Homo sapiens: one gene and its partners. The protein of the gene in region 4 interacts with the protein of the main gene of each other region in a biochemical or structural test. Each region holds a gene or a part of one and is shown on either strand. Other genes may lie near its edges.

Evidence for each region. Proteins that work in one complex are often made in the same cells at the same time.
Region 1: the proteins of HIPK2 (region 4) and SUMO1 form a complex in vitro, tested with the Homo sapiens proteins (one study listed by BioGRID).
Region 2: of the proteins of HIPK2 (region 4) and SIAH1, one has a biochemical effect on the other in vitro, tested with the Homo sapiens proteins (4 studies listed by BioGRID, with this or other methods).
Region 3: the proteins of HIPK2 (region 4) and SMAD2 form a complex in vitro, tested with the Homo sapiens proteins (one study listed by BioGRID).

Annotation. Positions count from the first base shown.
Region 1 is NC_000002.12:202,214,561-202,219,144, forward strand, and holds part of SUMO1 (small ubiquitin-related modifier 1 isoform a precursor), read right to left. Parts: intron 1-4,584. UniProt on the Homo sapiens protein: Ubiquitin-like protein that can be covalently attached to proteins as a monomer or a lysine-linked polymer.
Region 2 is NC_000016.10:48,375,377-48,379,960, forward strand, and holds part of SIAH1 (E3 ubiquitin-protein ligase SIAH1), read right to left. Parts: intron 1-4,584. UniProt on the Homo sapiens protein: E3 ubiquitin-protein ligase that mediates ubiquitination and subsequent proteasomal degradation of target proteins.
Region 3 is NC_000018.10:47,868,123-47,872,706, reverse strand, and holds part of SMAD2 (mothers against decapentaplegic homolog 2), read left to right. Parts: intron 1-2,142; coding exon 2,143-2,232; intron 2,233-3,270; coding exon 3,271-3,464; intron 3,465-4,249; coding exon 4,250-4,384; intron 4,385-4,584. UniProt on the Homo sapiens protein: Receptor-regulated SMAD (R-SMAD) that is an intracellular signal transducer and transcriptional modulator activated by TGF-beta (transforming growth factor) and activin type 1 receptor kinases.
Region 4 is NC_000007.14:139,560,063-139,566,079, reverse strand, and holds the end of HIPK2 (homeodomain-interacting protein kinase 2), read left to right. Parts: 3' UTR 1-4,510; downstream 4,511-6,017.

The DNA.
Region 1 (4,584 bases), on a different chromosome or scaffold from region 4:
CCACAATATTCTTTTTAGCATTCTTAACAGGTTTTCTTAAAACAGTGTAATCATCCTCAAAGTTACTGTATACCCATTACAAAAGAAACCGAGTAAAACAAAGTTAATCAGTCTTGAGTGTTAAAATTATCAGTATAAGTAAAAGTCTAAGTAAATGCATTCCTTCATTTGCCATTCTATTGTCAAAATAAAAGATGAACTATCGCATCTTTTATTTATCCCAATAGCAACTCAAAACAAAAAGTCTGTCCCCCCAAGTGAAGTGTCACTGAAGGTGGTCGCCTAGGAGAAAAGCAGTTAATTAGATAATAATTAATTGTATAAAATTCAATTTTATACAATAAGCGACTGAGAAATTTATTCCTGCCATAAAAAATCACCACATGGGGCTGAGCGCAGTGGCTCATGCCTGTAATCCCAGCAATTTGGGAGACCAAGGCAGGCGGATCACAAGGTCAGGAGTTCAAGACCAGCCTGGCCAGTATAGTGAAACCCCGTCTCTACTAAAAATACAAAAATTAGCCAGGCATGGTGGCACACACCTGTAGTCCCAGCTACTCAGGAGGCTGAGGCAGAAGAATTGCTTGAACCCAGGAGGTGTAGGTTGCAGTGAGCCAAGAACACGCCACTGCACTCCAGCCTGGGAAACAGAACAGTACTCCATCTCAAAAAAAAAAAAAAAAAAAAAATCACCACATGGAATCTGGTTTCTCTCACATGAGTAAAATGAGTAAGAACCTGAGTTAGTCAAACTGATTTGTGAGACCAAAAATTATTTTATTCTGCTCAGATTGTGAAACAAACTATCAGCCAGCCAATCCTCAGAAAAAATACTGTTACTTGCATAATGTAAACTTTCAAAGCCAAACTTCATGACTACATATCACATTCACAAATGTGTATTTGCAGAAGCTGCACATTTACAGTATTTTTCTTGTGACTGTAACTATGAAGAAATAAAATTATCTTCACATAGATCATTTCATAAACAGATAAAATTCTACAGCAAACCTCATGCTATACATTAAAATCAATTCCAGGCTGGGCATGGTGGCTCATGCCTATAATCCCAACACTTTGGGAGGCCAAAGCAGGAGGATCATTTGAGTTCAGGAGTTCGAGACCAGCCTGACCAACATGGTGAACGCCATTTCTACTAAAAATACAAAAAAATTAGCCAGGCGTGGTGGCGCATGCCTGTAATCCCAGCTACTCGGGAGGGTGAGGCAGGAGAATCGCTTGAACCCAGGACGCGGAGGCTGCAGTGAACCTAGATCTCGCCACTGTACTCCAGCCTGGGCAACAGAGTGAGACGCCATCTCAAAAAAAAAAAAAAAAAATCACTTGCAGATGAATTAAAGAGCTAACATTAAAATTTTTTTGGCCAGGTGCAGTGGCTCACTCCTGTAATCCCAACACTTTGGGAGGTCAAGCCGGGCAGATCACGAGGTCAGGAGTTCAAGACCAGCCTGGCCAACATGATGAAACCCTATCTCTACTAAAAATATAAAAAATTAGCCGGGTGTGGTGACAGTTGCATGTAATCCCAACTACTCGGGAGGCTGAGGCAGGAGAAGTGCTTGAACCTGGGAGGCGGATGTTGCAGTGAGCCGGAAGTACCACTGCACTCCAGCCTGCATGACAGGACAAGGCTCCACATCAAAAAAAAAAAAAAAAAAATTCTCAATATTTTCCCCTCAAGGGAGAATTTTTTTCCCCTAATTTTGGCCTTGGGATGCCCTATTGCAAAGCATGATTTTAACCTAGAAACCATAAAAAAAAGAGGTGGATAAATTTGACTTAATAAAAACATAAAACGTCTGTATAGTAAAAGATGCCATAAACAAAAGTTAAGACATACTGGAGGAAATATTCATAACATGTAACAGACAAGGAAAATGAAGACAATATTTTTAAAAATCCCACAAATTAATAATTCTTAAAAAGACATTCCATGGCATATGGACATATAGATAGATCAATGGCATAAAATTGAGAGCCAAGAAAAAACCCTTATATCTATAGTCAATTTTTTGACAAGGATACCAGAACAATTCAGTGAGAAAAGGACAGTCTTTTCAACTAATGGTCTGGGACAAACACCCATAAAAAATTATTCAAAATGATGAAAGATTTAAATGTAAGAGCTAAAACTATAAATAAAACCATAAAACTTTTTTTTTTTTTTTTTTGAGACAGGGTCTCACTCTGTCACCCAGACTGGAGTACAGTCACGTGATCACAGCTTACTGCAGCCTTGACCTCCCAGGCTCAAGTGATTCTCCCTGCTCAGCCTCCTGAGTAGCTGGGACTACAGGCATGTGCCACCACGCCCTACTAATTTTTTATATTTTTTGTAGAGATGGGGTTTCGCCATGTTGCCCAGGCTGGTCTCCAGCTCCTGAGCTCAAGCAATCTGCCCACCTTGGCCTCCCAAAATGCTGAGATTACAGGTGTGAGCCATTGTGCCCAGCCTTAAAACTCTTAAACCACAAGCGTAAACCTTTGTGACCCTGGATTAGGTAATGGTTTCTTAGATAAATTACAAGCAACAAAAGAAAAAACAGATGAACTTAATTTACCAAAATTAAAAACTTTACGCTGCAAAGAATAAAACCAAGAAAGTGAAAAGACAACTCAAAGATAGGAGAAAATCCATGCAAATCATATATATGATAAAGGTCTAATACCCAGAATAAAAGACATATTACCACTCAACAATAAAAAGACAACTAACCCAATTTAAAAATGGGCAAAAGATCTAAAGAACTTCATTTTTCCAAAGAAGATGTACTAATGGCCAATAAGTACATAAAAAAATGCTTGGCATCATTAGCCATCAGGAAAGAGCAAGTTGAAACCACAGTGAGATACCACTTCACACCCACTAGGATTATAACCAAAAATACGGATAATTACAAGTGTTGACCAGAATATGGAAAAACTGAAACCCTCATATGTTGCTGCTAGGAATGTAAGATGGTAGGGCCACTGCTGAAAACAGTTTGGCAGTTCCTCAAAAAGTAAAACATATAGTTGCATACTAGACCCAGCAATTCCACTCCTAGGTATATATCCAAGGGAGCTGAAAACATATGTCCATACAAAAACACACATGAATGTTCACAGCAACATTATTAATAGTAGCCAAAATATGGGGACAAACTAAATATCAACTGATAAATGGAAAACAAAATATATTCTACCCATATAATGGAACAGAATTCAGCCATTAAAAGGAATATAGTACTGATACATGCTACAGCATGAATGAACCTTGAAAACATGCTAAAACAAAGAAGCCAGGCCAGGCATAGTGGCTCACACCTATAATCCCAGAACTTTAGGCCAAAGAGGGAGAATCACTTAAGCCCAAGAGTTCAAGACCAGCCTGAGCAACATAGCGAGAACCCTGGAGAGGGAGACGGGGATGGGGAGGGGGGGAGGGGAGGGAGGGGAAGAGGAACAGGGAAGCAAGGCAGAAAAGAAGAAACAAACCAGAATAAAAAGTCACATATCAAAGCTAGGCATGGTGGCTCATGCCTGTAATCCCAACACTGTGGGAGGCCGAGGTAGGCGGATCATCTGAGGTCAGGAGTTTGAGACCAGCCTGGCCAACATGGCGAAACCCCATCTCTACTAAAAATACAAAAATTAGCTGGGCATGGTGGTGCACACCTGAAATCCCAGCTACTCAGGAGGCTATGGCAGGAGGGTCGCTTGAACCCAGGAGGTTGAGGTCGCAGTGAGTTGAGATCAGGCCACTGCACTCCAGCCTGGGTGACACAGCGAGACCCTTGCCTCAAAAAAAAAAAAAAAAAAAAAAAGCCATATATCTTATGATTCCATTTATATGTAATGTCCACAAAAGGCAAACCTATAGAGACAGAAAGTAGAATCATGGTTGTCACTGGCTGGAGGAAATAGGATGGGGAATGACTGCTAATGGGTACAGGGTGTCTTTTTGGGGTAATGCAAATGTTCTGGAATTAGTAGTGGTGATGGCTGCACACACTTGTGAATAATACTAAAGCCCCTGAATTATATACTTTAAAATAGTGAATTTTATAGTATGTGAATTTTATCTTTTAAAAGTTTTCAAAATAAAGCCGGCATGGTGGCTCACACCTGTAATCCCAGAACTCTGGGAGGCCGAGACGGGTGGGGATCACCTGAGGTCAGGAGTTCGAGACCAGCCTGGCCAACATGGGGAAACCCCGTCTCTACTAAAAATATTTTTTAAAAAAATTAGTCAGGCTTCGTGGCAGGCACCTGTAGTCCCAGCTACTCGGGAGGCTGAGGCAGGAGAATCACCTGAACCCAGGAGTGAAGGGTGCAGTGAGCCAAGATCACGCCATTGCACTCCAGCCTGCCAACAAGAGCACAACTCCATTTCAAAATAAAATTTAAATTTAAAAAATTTTGAAAATAAAAAATAAAAGTCTTCAAAATAAGATAATCACAGAAAAATGGGAAAAGGGTATGAACACAATTAACAGAAGAATATAAATGTAACAGACCAAAAAAATTATACCTTATTAATAATCAGGTAAATGAAAAATAAACAAAAATGTTTTACCTAGC
Region 2 (4,584 bases), on a different chromosome or scaffold from region 4:
GCCTGTAATCCCAGCAACTTTGGGAGGCTGAGACAGGTGGATCACTTGAGGTCAGGAGTTGGAGACCAGCCTGGCCAACATGGTGAAACTGTTTCTACTAAAAATACAAAAATTATCCAGGCATGGTGGTGGGCACCTGTAATCCCAGCTACTAGGGAGGCTGAGGCAAGAGAATTGCTTGAACGCAGGAGTTAGAGGGTATAGTGAGATGAGATCAGGCCAACTGCACTCCAGCCCGGGCGACAGAGCGAGACTCCGTCTCAAAAAAAAACAAAAAACAAAAAACAAATTGGGGGGAGAAAAAAAGCTACAGAATATACAGATTACAATTTCATTTAGGTTAAAAGAAAAAAATAGGTAAGTATAATAGATATGCACATTGATGTATATATTTTCATGTATGTATGCATGTATGTAGCATGTAATGAAACAGAAAAGAAACTGGAAGGACATCCAAACTGCAGAATGTAGTTTAATGGTTTAAGATGCAGGATCAGACAAAGGGAGAGCAAGCCTGGAATTAGAAACCAGAGAGAGATGGGACCACTGAACTACAGGCACACAAAGCATCAAGAACTCCAAGAAACAGAGACTGTCGGCACAAATTCCATCGTTTGAAATTACAGTACACAGTTCAAACATATATAGTTCTTAGAGATGATAATCATGAGAACTACAAGAATTTAGGTCAGATCAAAGAAACTAACTTTAAAATATCTTTGGCTGAGTAAAACAAAAAAATGTGAAGCACACCCAGACTACACCAAAATGTCTATGATGGTTACTTTTTAGTAATCAGATTATAAATAATAGTTTGGGGGTGAGGAGGGATTTCGGTATCTCTCCAATGTTTCATAAAATTATTGGCAACAAAAAATATTACACTTAAAAATTTTAATGCACATTTTATCATATCTCCACATTTTCTGTTAATGAATTGCTAGTAACTTCTACAGAACATCAAATACAGAATTCAAGAGCTGATTTTCTCCTTGCTTTCACTTTTTTTCTCAAAATTCCTCAAATAGATGGATACTTACAGGAAACTTAAAACCAGCCTATTCACAAAAAACTACATATTTTGTAGACATTTTATTTTATACTATAAAAAAAAATCTTATTTATTTTTTCTTGAGACAGAGTCTCGCTCTGTCGCCCAGGCTGGAGTGCAGTGGTGCAATCTCAGCTCACTGCAACCTCCACCTCCCAGGTTCAAGCAATTCTCCCGTCTCAGCCTCCCAAGTAGCTGGGATTACTGGCGCCCGGCACTACACCCGGCTGAAAATATCTTAAACATTTTAAAAGTTAACAAAATTTATGATAGCCCCCCTCCCCTCACAAACTCAAAAGAATACAGTCTGCAAAAATTAACTAACGTCTGTATAGACAAGATATCCGAAGTTGTTCTAATAAAGCTAAATCAGGGCCCTTGACAAGTTTTTAGAAGTAAAGCTACCTTACCCAACAAGCCTGAGTTCTGGCCAAATTCAAAAGGGCAAAATTTAATGTGAAATACAAAGGAAGGAAACCAGGAAGAAGTTTTTAACAGGGAGAGGATTACTTCATTTTGTCAAATAAATTATTGAAGTAATCTTTCCAAGGTAGAGTCTTTGCAGAGAAGCTAGTATACACTTATATTTACTGTATCAACCATCACTAGACCAAGGTGGTCGATGTGACACTAATAAATAACTATACCAAGTACGCTGAAATATTTTCTACAAAATTCAAGACTGGCATTAAACTCCTTAAGAAAATATTTCTCACTGGCAAGATCTGTTTTATAAATATAATTAGTTCTCCAAAGGTTTTTCTCTTTCTAGTTTATTCCATGTGCCCGGACTCCCTGTTCAAAACAAAAACGAATAAGCAAAAAAAACCAAAAACAAAACAAAACAAAAAAAACAAGTCAGTTCAAACATGACTGGGCAACCACAAACCTAATGGAAGGTTTCTGCCAGCTTTATTCTGGTCATATCTTGTCTGTAACATTAAACCTAAAGTTCTGGAAGACTTTTTTTTTTTTTTTTTTTGAGACAGAGTCTTGTTCTGTTGCCCAGGCTGGGTGCAGTGGCACCATCTCGGCTCACTGCAACCTACACCTCCCGGGTTAAGTGATTCTCCTGCCTCAGCCTCCGAGTAGCTGGAATTACAGGGGGATGACACCATGCCCAGCTAATTTTTTTATTTTTAGTAGAGACAAGGACAGGGCTTCACCATGTTGGCCAGGCTAGTCTTGAACTCCTGACCTCAAGTGATCCACCAGCCTCGGCCTCCCCAAAGTGCTGGGATTACAGGCGTGAGCCGCCACGCTGAGCCTCCTGAAGATTTAAGGAAAAAAAAAATCGTTCTAGAAATACTGGTCAGAAAGTATTTGAGATGGTCAGGGAAAAGAATAAGACTTAAAAAACAAAAGAAGGGCCAGGTGTGGCAGCTCACACCTGTAATCCCAACAATCTGGGAGGCCGAGGCGGCAGGATTGCTAAAGCCTTTGAGTTTGAGACCAGCCTGGACAACATAGTGAGATCTCGTCTCTAATAAAAATAAAAATTATAATAAAATAAAATAAGAAGTACTGGGACACATGGCTATTCAGCTGGTAACTTTGTCATGGATAAGCAAATAATACTCCTTAATCACACAAAAAAACATAATGTTGAGTGAAAGAAGCCAAACAGAAATGAAAGAGTACAGGCCGGGCGCAGTGGCTCACGCCTGTAATCCTAGCACTTTGGGAGGCCAAGGCAGGCAGATCACCTGAGGTTGGGAGTTCAAGACCAGCCTGACCAACATGGAGAAACCCCATCTCTACTAAAAACACAAAAAATTAGCCAAGTGTGGTGGTGCATGCCTGTAATCCCAGCTACTCGAGAGGCTGAGGCAGGAGAATCGCTTGAACCCGGGAGGTGGAGGTTGCCGTGAGCCAAGACTGTGCCATTGCACTCCAGCCTGGGCAACAAGAGTGAAACTTTGTCACAAAACAACAACAACAACAACAAAAGAATGAAAGAGTACAAACTCTACTGTTCCATTCATATAAGGCACAAAATTAGGCAAAATAAATCTATGGTGTAAAAAGTCAAGAGGTGGTTTCCTGTGAAGGGGGCGGCTCCTTGTTTCTTCGATCTGGGAGGTGGTTACAATAGCGTTCCTTTTGTGAAAATGTCAAGCTGTACACATGATTTGAGCACTTTTTCCATATGTATTTAGGCTAAATGTCAACAAAATAGTTTACATTTAGAAAATAAAAGTCCTAATATTGCTCTAGGTATTCTCCTAGAATCTCCTTGAACAACAGCCAGATGCTAATATCAGCTAACACTTCACAGCATCTCTCCTCTCTTTCCCTCTGCACAGTTCTTCAACCTGTCTCTCTCTACTACCCATTTGCTCCAGCAACACTCCTCAGGTCCTAGAGCAGTCCAAATTCATCCCTACTTCATGGGGCCTTTATCTGGCTGCATCTTCCATCTAAGATGTACTCCTTCCCCCTTCAAAGGGCGAGCTCCTTATCCTTGGACACCAGGTCTCCCTTCCACCCCACTGGTCTCTTCAGCACTTTGACTCCTTTACAGTACACTTCACAATTTGTAATTCTGTTTCTTTCTTTCCTCACTAGAAGGTAAGTGGTAATATTTAGAGAAGTAACTTACTCAACAACTAATCTTTTTACAACACTTGCTGTGTTAGGCAATGTGCTTTTAGATGCAAAGTAGGCAGTGTCTCTGCTCTCATGGAACTTAAAGTCACAAACACAACTAATAAGTGATAGAGCCAAGAGACACATCCAGATCTGACTCTTAAGGGCTTGTCCTCTTAGCCACTTAATTATACTGACACTCTAGCATTAGGACATGGGGGCTGGGGGGGCGAGGGGAAGGCAGGGAACAGCAATATACTTAATAACTGTTCATGTACTAATAGAACTAAGGCTTAGAGAGGTTCAGTAATCTACCCAAAGTAGCACAAATAGACATTTCAGAGGCTAAATACAATCATGACCAAAGGCACAGAGATGCTAAAGCAGTGTTCAAGGAACAAAAGAACCCAGTTGGCCTAGGTAGGGCAAAGGGGAAACACAGGCAATAAGGCTAGAGAAGTTTGTAAGAAACACTATGCCTTGGTAAAAACAAAACACAACGAAAAGGCTAGAAGAGTTTAATAAGGACAGTGTGGAGTCAGTCGCTCAATAACTTTTTACTGAGCACCACCTATGTTCCAGAAAGAGTCCTAAACTCTTGAGACACAAGGATGACCAAGTCGTCATAGAGATTACAGTCTATCTGGGGAGGCATACAACTAAAGAAAAATTATAATTCAGGAGGATATGTTACAGTGGGACCGAGCAGAGTGCTATGGGAACACAGAGATGACATCCAATTCAATGTGCAGAGTTCACAAAGAGCTTCTCAGCTAGTGATGTCCAGGCTGAGATAAGAGAGCTTAATAGGATGAGAGGGGCTTGCAAGTAAAGTCCAAAATGGCAGGGGAGTAACAAGAGAGGCCAGCTCAGGAGAGGCTATGTACTTACGAACCATATCAAGAACTTAGAACTTTACACTGAAAGCCTTTTAAGTCAGGTTC
Region 3 (4,584 bases), on a different chromosome or scaffold from region 4:
TCGCATGTGCAGTTCACAATAGGGTTCTTGCTCCTATGAGAATCTAATGCCACTGCTGATCTTCCAGGAGGCAGAGCTCAGGTGGTAATGGTCTCTCCCCTGCTGCTCACCTTCTGCTGTGTGTCCTGGTTCCTAACAGGCCGTGGACCGGTATCAGTCTGTGGCCTCTGAGACTCCTGCTTTAAGTCATCTCTATATTATGCATAATATGTAATACATTGTAAATGCTGTGTAAATAGTTGTTATACCATATTGTTTTTAAATTTTGTATTTTTCAATTGTTGTATTTTTTAGTTTTAAAAATTTACTTATTTTTTCTACTTTTTGATCCACGGTTGGTTGAATCCAAGGATGTGGAACCCTTGGATACAGAGGGCTCTATGTTTTATTATAAATTGGCTTATTTTAAAAAATATTTTTTATTATGTAAACAGGCAATGATTTTACTAGCTAGAAGCAAATTTAATGTTTTAAAATAAACCTTCCAATTTTGTTAGGCATGATAATGATGGAACTGAGGCTTAAATATACCCTATGGCAGCAGTTGGAAAGTGGCCGAATTAGGGTTGGGGTCTAGATCTGTCTGCCTCTAGATTGATTGCAAGTTCTTAACAATTACTGTTTATTCTTCTCTGATTCCTTTCAAGGATTAAATAAAGTACAATGTAAACTTCATGCTCTATTTTAGATTCTGGTTCTCATGTGAGTCCCAGAATAACTTGAGTGAAATGTTCTGATACAGAGCAGAATAGCCTCTTGTGCTACACTTTTGTTAATTATTTTCAAAGAATAGTCTCCTGTATACCATTTCTTTAATAGACTCAGAAGTCTGTAGAATTGAGGTGATTCTGTTGTGATTTAAACTACATCATGCTATATGTTTCCAATAGATATTTGAAAATATCTTTTAAATAAACCATTAATGTCATGGTTTTTAAATCAGTATATCTTTGGAAAAAAGGGAAAGGTCTAAGCCTTAATTTACCTGGCTTTTTCTGGCTTTTATAGTCTGGTAAATTTTGCAGCCTGAAAAAGCAAGAGAATCTATAAAATACTTGAATGAGATGCTGGAAAATTTCAGAACAGGTTTTGTTTTGAACTGTCGGGTCACTGTAGCCCCCAAAGCAGGGCATGATGTGTTCCTGCAGCCTGATAGCTATGTGACAGCACCTGTAGTACTAAAGCCAAGGATGCCAGGTGGTTCTGTTGCCTGGCCACAGGAAGCCAGCGCTTCTCACCATTGCCCTTTGAACTGTTGATCCAGTTAAGCTCACTAACAATGTGTAAATATGAAATTTAATCAATTGCTTGATTCATTTTCAAAAGATGTTTTGAAATACTCCTTTATCCGCATTGAAGTTTTGATGATTTTGTAATATGTAAGAAATGGACTTTTCAGAAAAGTACAACTTAGTACTTGAGACATTGGCTGTCAAAGTTCCATTCCAAAACTTCCTTTTAAGCTCTCTTTCCCTTCTCTCACTGACCAGAAGTTACTATGAAATGAAATAAAGGTAGGGAAAAAGGGAGAATTATCTCTGAGCTGCCCATATTCTGGAGAGAAATGTGGGAGAAAATTTTTAAGGTGGTATACTAAATTAGAATGACTTCAAAGTCTATTTCTTTATTTATTCTAGAGATGAGAACAAAATAATTTTCAGTAAAACTTAAAAATATCATGACCAGATAACCTGAAAATCTTAACTGTGGATGCATGTCTATTTTTATTGGGATTTTTTTCTATATTAAAAATCAGTTGACATCTGTTTTTAGATAATTTTTTAAAAAACTGGATTATAAAATGAAGCACTTAGTAAAGCTGATGGCAGAGGTTTTAGATCTTTTGAATACAGGAAAGTGGTAAGGGCATTATAGGTATGATTCATTGAGCTAGAGGGCGTTGGTGTTCACATTTTAAAAACATAATCATGACTTATCTGGAGTCACATGTTCCATTTTATTGGCTTCCTTCATATAGAAAATATAGTAACCAGCACTACATGCCTGTGAAAAAGTGAAGCAATTGTATATTTTCTGGGTGAAGGAAGTATTCTGTACATTCTCCATGTTTTACATCATGGTATTTTGAATAACCATGCTTCCATGTTCACATCAATTTTTTGTTTTTCAATTTATGCACAGCACTTGCTCTGAAATTTGGGGACTGAGTACACCAAATACGATAGATCAGTGGGATACAACAGGCCTTTACAGCTTCTCTGAACAAACCAGGTGAATATTCTGCCCTCTGTCGAATCTTAGAGATCTTGTGGGAGGGGGGTATATTTTGAAAGACCTATATGGGGTTGCTTAGTATAATTTTGCCTAGGATGTTTCCTTAATGTAAAATAAGGCATAGCATTTAAAATATCTGCTTGCCAGTATAAAAAATATATTAAATGTTTCAGCTGATGTTTTAATCAATGCAATTCTAGTTTGAATCTTCTTTAAATTACTGTATCCCCTAAAGAATAATAATTTTGATAACTATATATTTATTTTAGCTTGAGATCAGATTATAATCTGTTGTTGGCCTAATTTTTAAGTAGATACATGATGAGTTTTGCTAAATTTCTTGTTATCAGAATCTCATCTTTATACTAATAAATACATACTTAATGAACCCCTTATATCACAATTAACAGTAGGTTAACTCATTTTTATGTTACTTTTTTTAATCACTTCATTTTCTTTTTTGCGTATATGGTATTTGTTCATTTCATCTCATCATATTCATCACCATCCACATTTATTTGTGAACTACATAAATATACCTCAGTTCTCAAAACAGTCACAACTGGGTAAAGAGTTGCAGTAGTCTGAGGAAGTTACTATCACATCATTGTTGGTATTTATCATTCTTCACACTAGTTCCTTTTCTGACTCTTCAGTCACCTCCAGAATTAATATCCTTAGAAGCATCTCTAAAATGAGTTTGATTTACTAAACATAGAAGTTGACAAAGTTTTTCAAGTATAACTGCATAAACTCTCTTTTTTAAAAAATCAGTTTTTCCCAAGTTGTTAGCCTTTCATTGGCATTTGAGTCATTTATGTGACATATTTATAAGAAACATCTGCTAGTGCTGCTGCATACTTTTATCAGATCCATTAAATAGTACATTTTTGTTCTTGATTCTCACTAAAACTAACTAAATGGCTGTCATTCTTTTCTTTATGCTTTTATTGTACTAATTTAGCCCATTTGACTGCACTTTTTTTTTTTTTTTTTTAAAGTTCCCTCCTTTCTTTTCCCCTTGCTTCCCAACAGGTCTCTTGATGGTCGTCTCCAGGTATCCCATCGAAAAGGATTGCCACATGTTATATATTGCCGATTATGGCGCTGGCCTGATCTTCACAGTCATCATGAACTCAAGGCAATTGAAAACTGCGAATATGCTTTTAATCTTAAAAAGGATGAAGTATGTGTAAACCCTTACCACTATCAGAGAGTTGAGACACCAGGTAGGAATATTGCAAGTTTTTTTCTTGGTTTTGAATTAAATGCCTGAACTTCAGTATATTTAAGTACTCTTGTGACCCAGGAAAATTTTAGTGTAAATTCTAATAAATTACCTTAAATTGTGCATATTATTTGGTGGTAATTAAAATTTTTTTATTTTTAAAAATTTTTAATGAGAAAACATATCTGTTTCTTGGAATAGCATATGATTTGGCATGAAAGTGCATATCCAGGAAATCCTGTAGATTGGCAGTCTGCTCAGCGCTATGCTGATGTGCTTCTACATGTCCCTGCTGCAGTAACATTTTCAAGCATTTTGCACTTGGAGTGCTTTTAGAAGTACTTTAATGACATCATTTGTATGTACACCGTTTAGTAAAGCTTGTAACAAGACTTTTCATTTAGTTAGCTGTCTACCTGAAACTATTAAAAAATATAGCAGTAGCTGCGTTTTTGGAAAATTTCCTATATCTGATTTTACAGATAAAGACAATGTTAAGTTTTCCAATGGGGATTTATGAACTTTTATGGTAATATAATATTACCAGGATCACATTGTTCCCAAAAGTTTGAGATAAATTAGAACTTGGAAATTTGGATAATAGACTACCTAAGTTAGAGCCATAATCAGATTTGTCATTTTCTCAGTAACTAGTATATATCGAGTAGGTGGACCCTAGCTTTAAAAATTAAGCTACAACTTCTCTTCTTGTTGAAAACTTTAAAAAAGGTTCCCCCACTCCCCTTTGCTCTTTGCCATTAACTTGGATTTCTTGAACTTTTTCAGTTTTGCCTCCAGTATTAGTGCCCCGACACACCGAGATCCTAACAGAACTTCCGCCTCTGGATGACTATACTCACTCCATTCCAGAAAACACTAACTTCCCAGCAGGAATTGAGCCACAGAGTAATTATATTCCAGGTATTTTTGCCTTCTGAATCTCCTAAAACTTGGATAGATACAAATTTTGTTCATAAGCATTCAAGTTTTAGTAAATTGTGGTTTCACTTTTTTAAAAATGCTTTTGAGTTTTTAATAGAAAAATTGGATTCGTTGGGTGATTATTTTGTGAAATGTATAAGCCTAGTACATTAAACAGTTTTGTTTGGAGAAGAGTTTTA
Region 4 (6,017 bases):
GTTTCTTTTGATTCATAGAATTCCTTTTAGATTTCTTTCCAGCATACCAACTAGCTTTAGTAGTGCTGCTACAACCAGCTCTTATAAGTAAGAGTGAAAAAGTATTCTTTTCTTCTTTAAAAAATAAGTTTTTCTTGCTTATAGTTAATTCTAGAAAGGCAATACTAAAGGTATATATTTTTTTCAAAATGCTATTTTTTACTGCACTTGATAATTATCCTGACAGCTCTGATCTCTGTAATAGATTCACTCTTCAGCTCTGGGCAGAACCAGAGGCAGGGTTCACACCAAATTTGTAAATACCATATGTGGGTCTGGTGTCCAGGAACTTTTTTCTTTCTGTTAAAAAAAAGAAAAAAAAAAGAAAAAAAAAAAGAAGTAGAGGTGGAAGAAAGACAAGACTTAGAGGAACAAAAGAATGTTTTCTTTTGAGATACTCTTCTCAAAGAAATAGCAACAATTGTATAAACAGGAAAACCAGCCAGCTTTCATGATAAAAGGAAGGCGTGTCTCTTGCCCTGGTATGAGATTAACAGAAATACAGATGCATTTTTATTTTGATTGAAAGATGGTGAGAATGTAGAAATGCTTAGGACTAGATTTTTAATTTTTTAAAATAACTATTATCATTTATTATGAAATATTTGTTCAGTTGTTTTGAGTGGGTTTCTTGTTCCTTTTTTCATTTAAAACCTTCTTTGTTGACTGGCTCCAGGCTTGTTTGCCTAAATTCTTAGGTAGTTTACACAAGTTCTAGAATCTTTTAGAACTTTAACTCCATTGGAAGCAAACCTAACTAATCGGAGTTTGAGATCCTGGTTGGTTTCAATAGGTATTCTGGAATTCTGGCAGAACACCTAAAGATTTTTTTTTTTTTTAGAAGGTTTTAGATACATTATCTTACACAAACTGTGACCTAATGGCAATAATTACCTCAAATGTGGGCATTCATCCTGGTTTTAGCCTTTTTTGAAATCATGTAGCCAGCTTGATCTTGGAATTTAAAGACTATGAATTCTCTGTGGGCTGAAAATAATGATTACTTCATACCCCCGGTCATCGTTGCTTAAGTGAATTCTGAAAATAGCTCATCTTTACAACAAAAATTAAACCAAGGAAGAGATTATTCTTTGTGTGTTGTACTCAAATGCGATGTTCAAATGCACATGTTAAGTATATATGTTTTTAGCTACTGTAAAATGCTGTTAGCCTTCTAAGCTATCAAAACAGTCACATTTTAAATGAGTAAACTAAACAATTGACTGTGGATACTTAAGCATATTTCTGGCTACGTTTTATAGTTAAAGTGTTTTATAGTTTACATTTAGACTGGTACTTTTTAAAGAAAAGTTCTGTTTATAACTGACATCCGCAAACCCCAGTGAATGCCTCTTAGTTGGAGGTTGTGTCTCCCCCAAGGCAAGTGTGTTGTCCCAGACTCTTCTGTAGTCCAGCATGCGCACTTCCCTCTGGATTATTACTTTCCACGTGAACTCAAGAGAACATGAAAGGCAATCCAGATGGAGGGAAAAGGTGTGAGTCCGCAGCCCGGGCCAGATGCGAAGGTCTCATGCGTGTCGTCTAAACACTTGTCTTCAAGGCCTTCTCTCTGACATCTTGGAAGAGTCATTGAGAACAGATAACCTGGTTCATTGATTTTTGTCTTGATTTGAATATTTAACTTATTAATAGATCCACTGATTTCCAGGCACCAGGCAGTAGAAGAGACTGGGATTCAGGTGACCATGAAGGCACAGCTGCTACTTCTGGGCCGGGGGTGATATTTTGATCAGCGTTTTGTAGGGGAGGACCATATACCCCTATTCCCATGGTCGCTGGCTGGGTTTTCCATATATCTGCTGTCATTTATTCGTTTTCCCCTTAAAAGCAAAATCAATGTAAAAGGCTATGTTTACGTTTTACTCATTGTCCAGCTTAGACTCAAAGTCTAGTTCGGTGGGAGGGGGACCTTAGCATCCTCTCAGAGATGGTCAGGGCTGAGCAGGAGGAGGCAGAGACAGAGGGGCAGCTCAGCCTGGTCCATTGAGACCCACTCTAAACAGACATCATATTTGGAACAAGAAGATGCTTCGAGACAGGAATGGGCCCCACTGTCATGCAGAAACAGACTGGGGGAATGGCAGTTTCCCTGAGTCTTGGTTTCTTTTATGTTTTCTCTTGTGCCACCACCAAACTGCAGAGGACCTGCTGTGACCTAAAGGGCATTCCTTTAGCAGATAAGACCTTGAAAACTGCAAAACACCTGGGACCAGGGAGCTTTTAAAAAATACAAAAAAATACCACATTTGCTTTTTCCCTGTGAACTGTATTGACAGCGTGTTCTTAGGACAGTCTTTTGGTGGAAATGTTACTGTAAAATAGTTTTCATCTCACCCCTCCTAATCATACTCCCACTTTCCTGTTTGTGTGGTGGTGTTGCTGTTTTTTCCTTTACATGAATTAACCAAATGAATTTTGTGTCATTGTTTTTGGGGCTTATATTTTTAAAACATAGAAATTGCCTTTTGTTCATTTGAAAAGTAAGTATGTTGTATCTGAAAAAGGGCTCTGCCTCTGCTCTCCCTCGCTTCCTTGTAACCAATCTCCAAACGAATCTCTCCTGGCACCGCCCCCTTCCTTATATAGGGTCACTGTCCCCGGGGCCACCTCTGCCTCCACCCTGCTGTCACCACTGCCCTGGGCCAAGGCACCCAGGACTCCCAGAAAGCGCGAGAGCCAGCAAGAAGGCCCCACTCAGCCTTGAGACTGGTGGTCACACCTCCCTGTCAGAGTCGCCTGCTGGGCTGAAGGGGCAATGGATTGTCATTGTTGAAATTGTTTGGCTCAGGTTATAAGGAGGAACTTGGGAAGTAGAAAGTGACTTGACCATGTGCATCCTTGGTAGCTTCCTGTAACTAACAAATGGAACAGAGAGCACACCCCCGCCCCGCCCCACCCCAAGCAGATGTTCCCGTCAGCGCTGCCCTGAGTCAGTCGGTCCCCCGTTTCTGCTCTCCTCCCTTTTGTGTTCCTGCTCACTTCAAGCTTCTTCCATGGACTTTCCAGGGCACAGTCATCTCTAGCCCCCAAATCATCTCTTCATCCTCTGTGTGTGCATTTTTTTAACCAAATGAAATAGACAAGAAAGTCATACTTTGGGGCAGCAGAATTTCTAATTTAGTAGAATCACTGTATAGAGATAGATGTTGATATATATGTTTGTGTATATATATCAAACCAAATTGGATAGGAGAAGTATAGCTTTACAGATGAGGAGAAGGAGCTCTTTAGAGGTCGGAGTCAAGACTGGTGTCTTGGACGTGCATGGGCTGTGTCCCAGGCCACTCCGCACACATGGGGCTGAGGCGTGGCGCCGGGCCCTTGTCATCCACCTCACCACGGCAGAGCCAGCAGGCCCTGTAGGGTGCTGCTGCTGTCTCACTGGGTCCCAGCTTCAAGCGCATCAGTGGGTGACGGGGGCAACAAATCAGAGTGACTGGAAGTTTCCATCCCGTTTTGCTTTGACCACGTGTACTGAGCTGCAGCCTCTGATACTCTGTCACGTTTCCAAAAATGGTATCCATTAGGATAGAAAGAGAATGGATCTGCAGAAATGTTTACCTTTCAACTGCTCATGAATTCAGGACACTGGATAGAAAGACTCACTCCCCAAAATGAGAACAGGGAAGAGGAGACCCGGCGACACTAAGTCACCAGGTCCAAGGAACGTGGCTCCCTCCCCAGGGTCATCTCACCTAGATCTTTCTCTCCCAGGTCATCTCAGCTCAATCTCAATAACCCTATGAAAGCCCTGGTCTGTTGTGTTCCTTCACCGTACGGTTTCTGTAATAAAAAGTGTTAATCCATGTTAATCTGTGTGAAAATTATTGCGTGCAACAGTATTTTCTCGTGTACCTCTTTTTCCTATGTGAATTGTCCCTCTTTTTTATTTATAAATGTCTACTTTTGTTTTTTTAAAGACAAACCAATGTGTTGTAGACCTATATGTAACCTATTCCTTAGTCTCATATTATAGGTATGTTATAAGAATGGATATTTTACTTGGCTTTAGAATGTTTTACAAGAAAACTAATTCTTAACTGATCAAGTCCTTGCTACTAAAATGCTTGTGTTTTTCATCATGACGTCGTGTGCTTCTAAATTAATCATTTTCGTTGTAGAAAAATGGAGTGAATTTATATTAGTCTTGGAAACTAATAATAGCATTGTAAATTTATGAGATGATTTTAACAGAAAAAATATAGAAGAATATAGTTATTTTAATTGTAATATTACTAACTGTAGGGTGAGAAAAAGGGGGGGGGGTCCCATTGTGGTGAACTATGTTATAGCTTGTTACTCATAGTTTCTTTTTGATCATTTTTTCGGTCTCCGAGGTGAAATGACTTATTAATTAAAATTTGTAAACTCACATATGCATATTGTATATGTGTAGAAATGTAATCACACTTTGTCTTGGAATTACATTAAACTGTTTGAAATCACTGTACACCTGCCTGGCATGCTTATTTATCCTGGAACCAGACCTGTCATAAAAGCGAAGAGGTTATTGTTACAAGTAACATATTTGGGGTTTGTTTGTTTATTTAGATGGAGTTTTGCTCTTGTTGCCCAGGCTGGAGGGCAATGGCACGATCCTGGCTCACTGCAAACTCCGCCTCCCAGGTTCAAGTGATTCTCTTGCCTCAGCCTCCCGAGTAGCTGGGATTACAGGCATGCACCACCACGCCCGGCTAATTTTGTATTTTTAGTAGAGATGGGGTTTCTCCATTTTTTGGTCAGGCTGGTCTCGAACTCCTGACCTCAGATGATCCACCTGCCTCGGCCTCCCAAAGTGCTGGGATTACAGGCATGAGCCACTGCGCCGGGCCGAGATTATTTAATGGCTCTGGAAATGTGTAGAAGCCACCACTGCATTGAACATTTGCAGAGAGAGGTGGGGGGCCTTGAGATCACATTACTACCAATTCCCATGCAGTTGAGTGGGGCTAAGAGTCTCCCAGCTTCCTGCTGCCTCTTCCAAGCCATTTCAGCCCCATCTGCTCCCAATCTCTGTCCCTGACACCTAAGGTGTGGCTGTCACCTGCTGTCCTGGAAGCTTTCCAATATGCATCCCGGATCCTCCGCACCCAGGCCCTGCCGTCTCACCAGACACCATCAGCACCCGGAGCCTCGTGGCTTGCTGGCCCATTGCCAGGGCCCTTGCCACTGCGCACTTGAGCTACGTGCGCCACAGCCCCGTCCAGGCGCTGTGCCTGCAGCAGCTCCACCTCAGCAAGCCTAAGAAACGCCACATCCTGCTGGGACTGGGGTTTCCCAGCCTTCTGACACTCTTTTTGTCTTAAATTATGGTAAAATATACATAATATAAAATTACCATTTTAAGTGGACTACTAGCAACGTTAAATACGTTCACATTATTGTATAGGTGTCACCACCATTTCCAGAATTTTTTCATCATCCCAAACACAAGTTCTGTCCCCATTAACAACTCCCCATTTCTCCCTCCACCCGGTGCCTAGCAACCACCCTTCTACTCTGTCTCCATGAATCTGCCTATCCTAGATATTTCATGTAAGTAGAATCATATATTTGTCCTTTTGTGTCTGGTCTATCTCACTTAGCATAATGTCTTTAGGGTTCATTCATGTTATGGCATACATCAGAATTCCATTCCTTTTCATGGCTGAATAATATTCCATTGTATGGAGAGATCACATTTGGCTGATCCATTTATCTGTTGATGGACATTTGAGTTGCTTCCACCTTTTGGCTGTTGTGCAAATGCTGCTGTGAACATTGGTGTGCAAAAGATCTGTTCAAATCCCTGCTTTCAGTTCTTCCGGGAGTGTACCCACAAGGGAACTGCCGGATCCTACAGCAATTTTAAGATTAACCCTTTGGGGTCCCATCATTCTGTTCCCCACAGCAGCTGTACCGTTTCACATTCCCACCAGCAATGCACAAGGTGTCCTGTTTCTCCACCCAGCACTCAT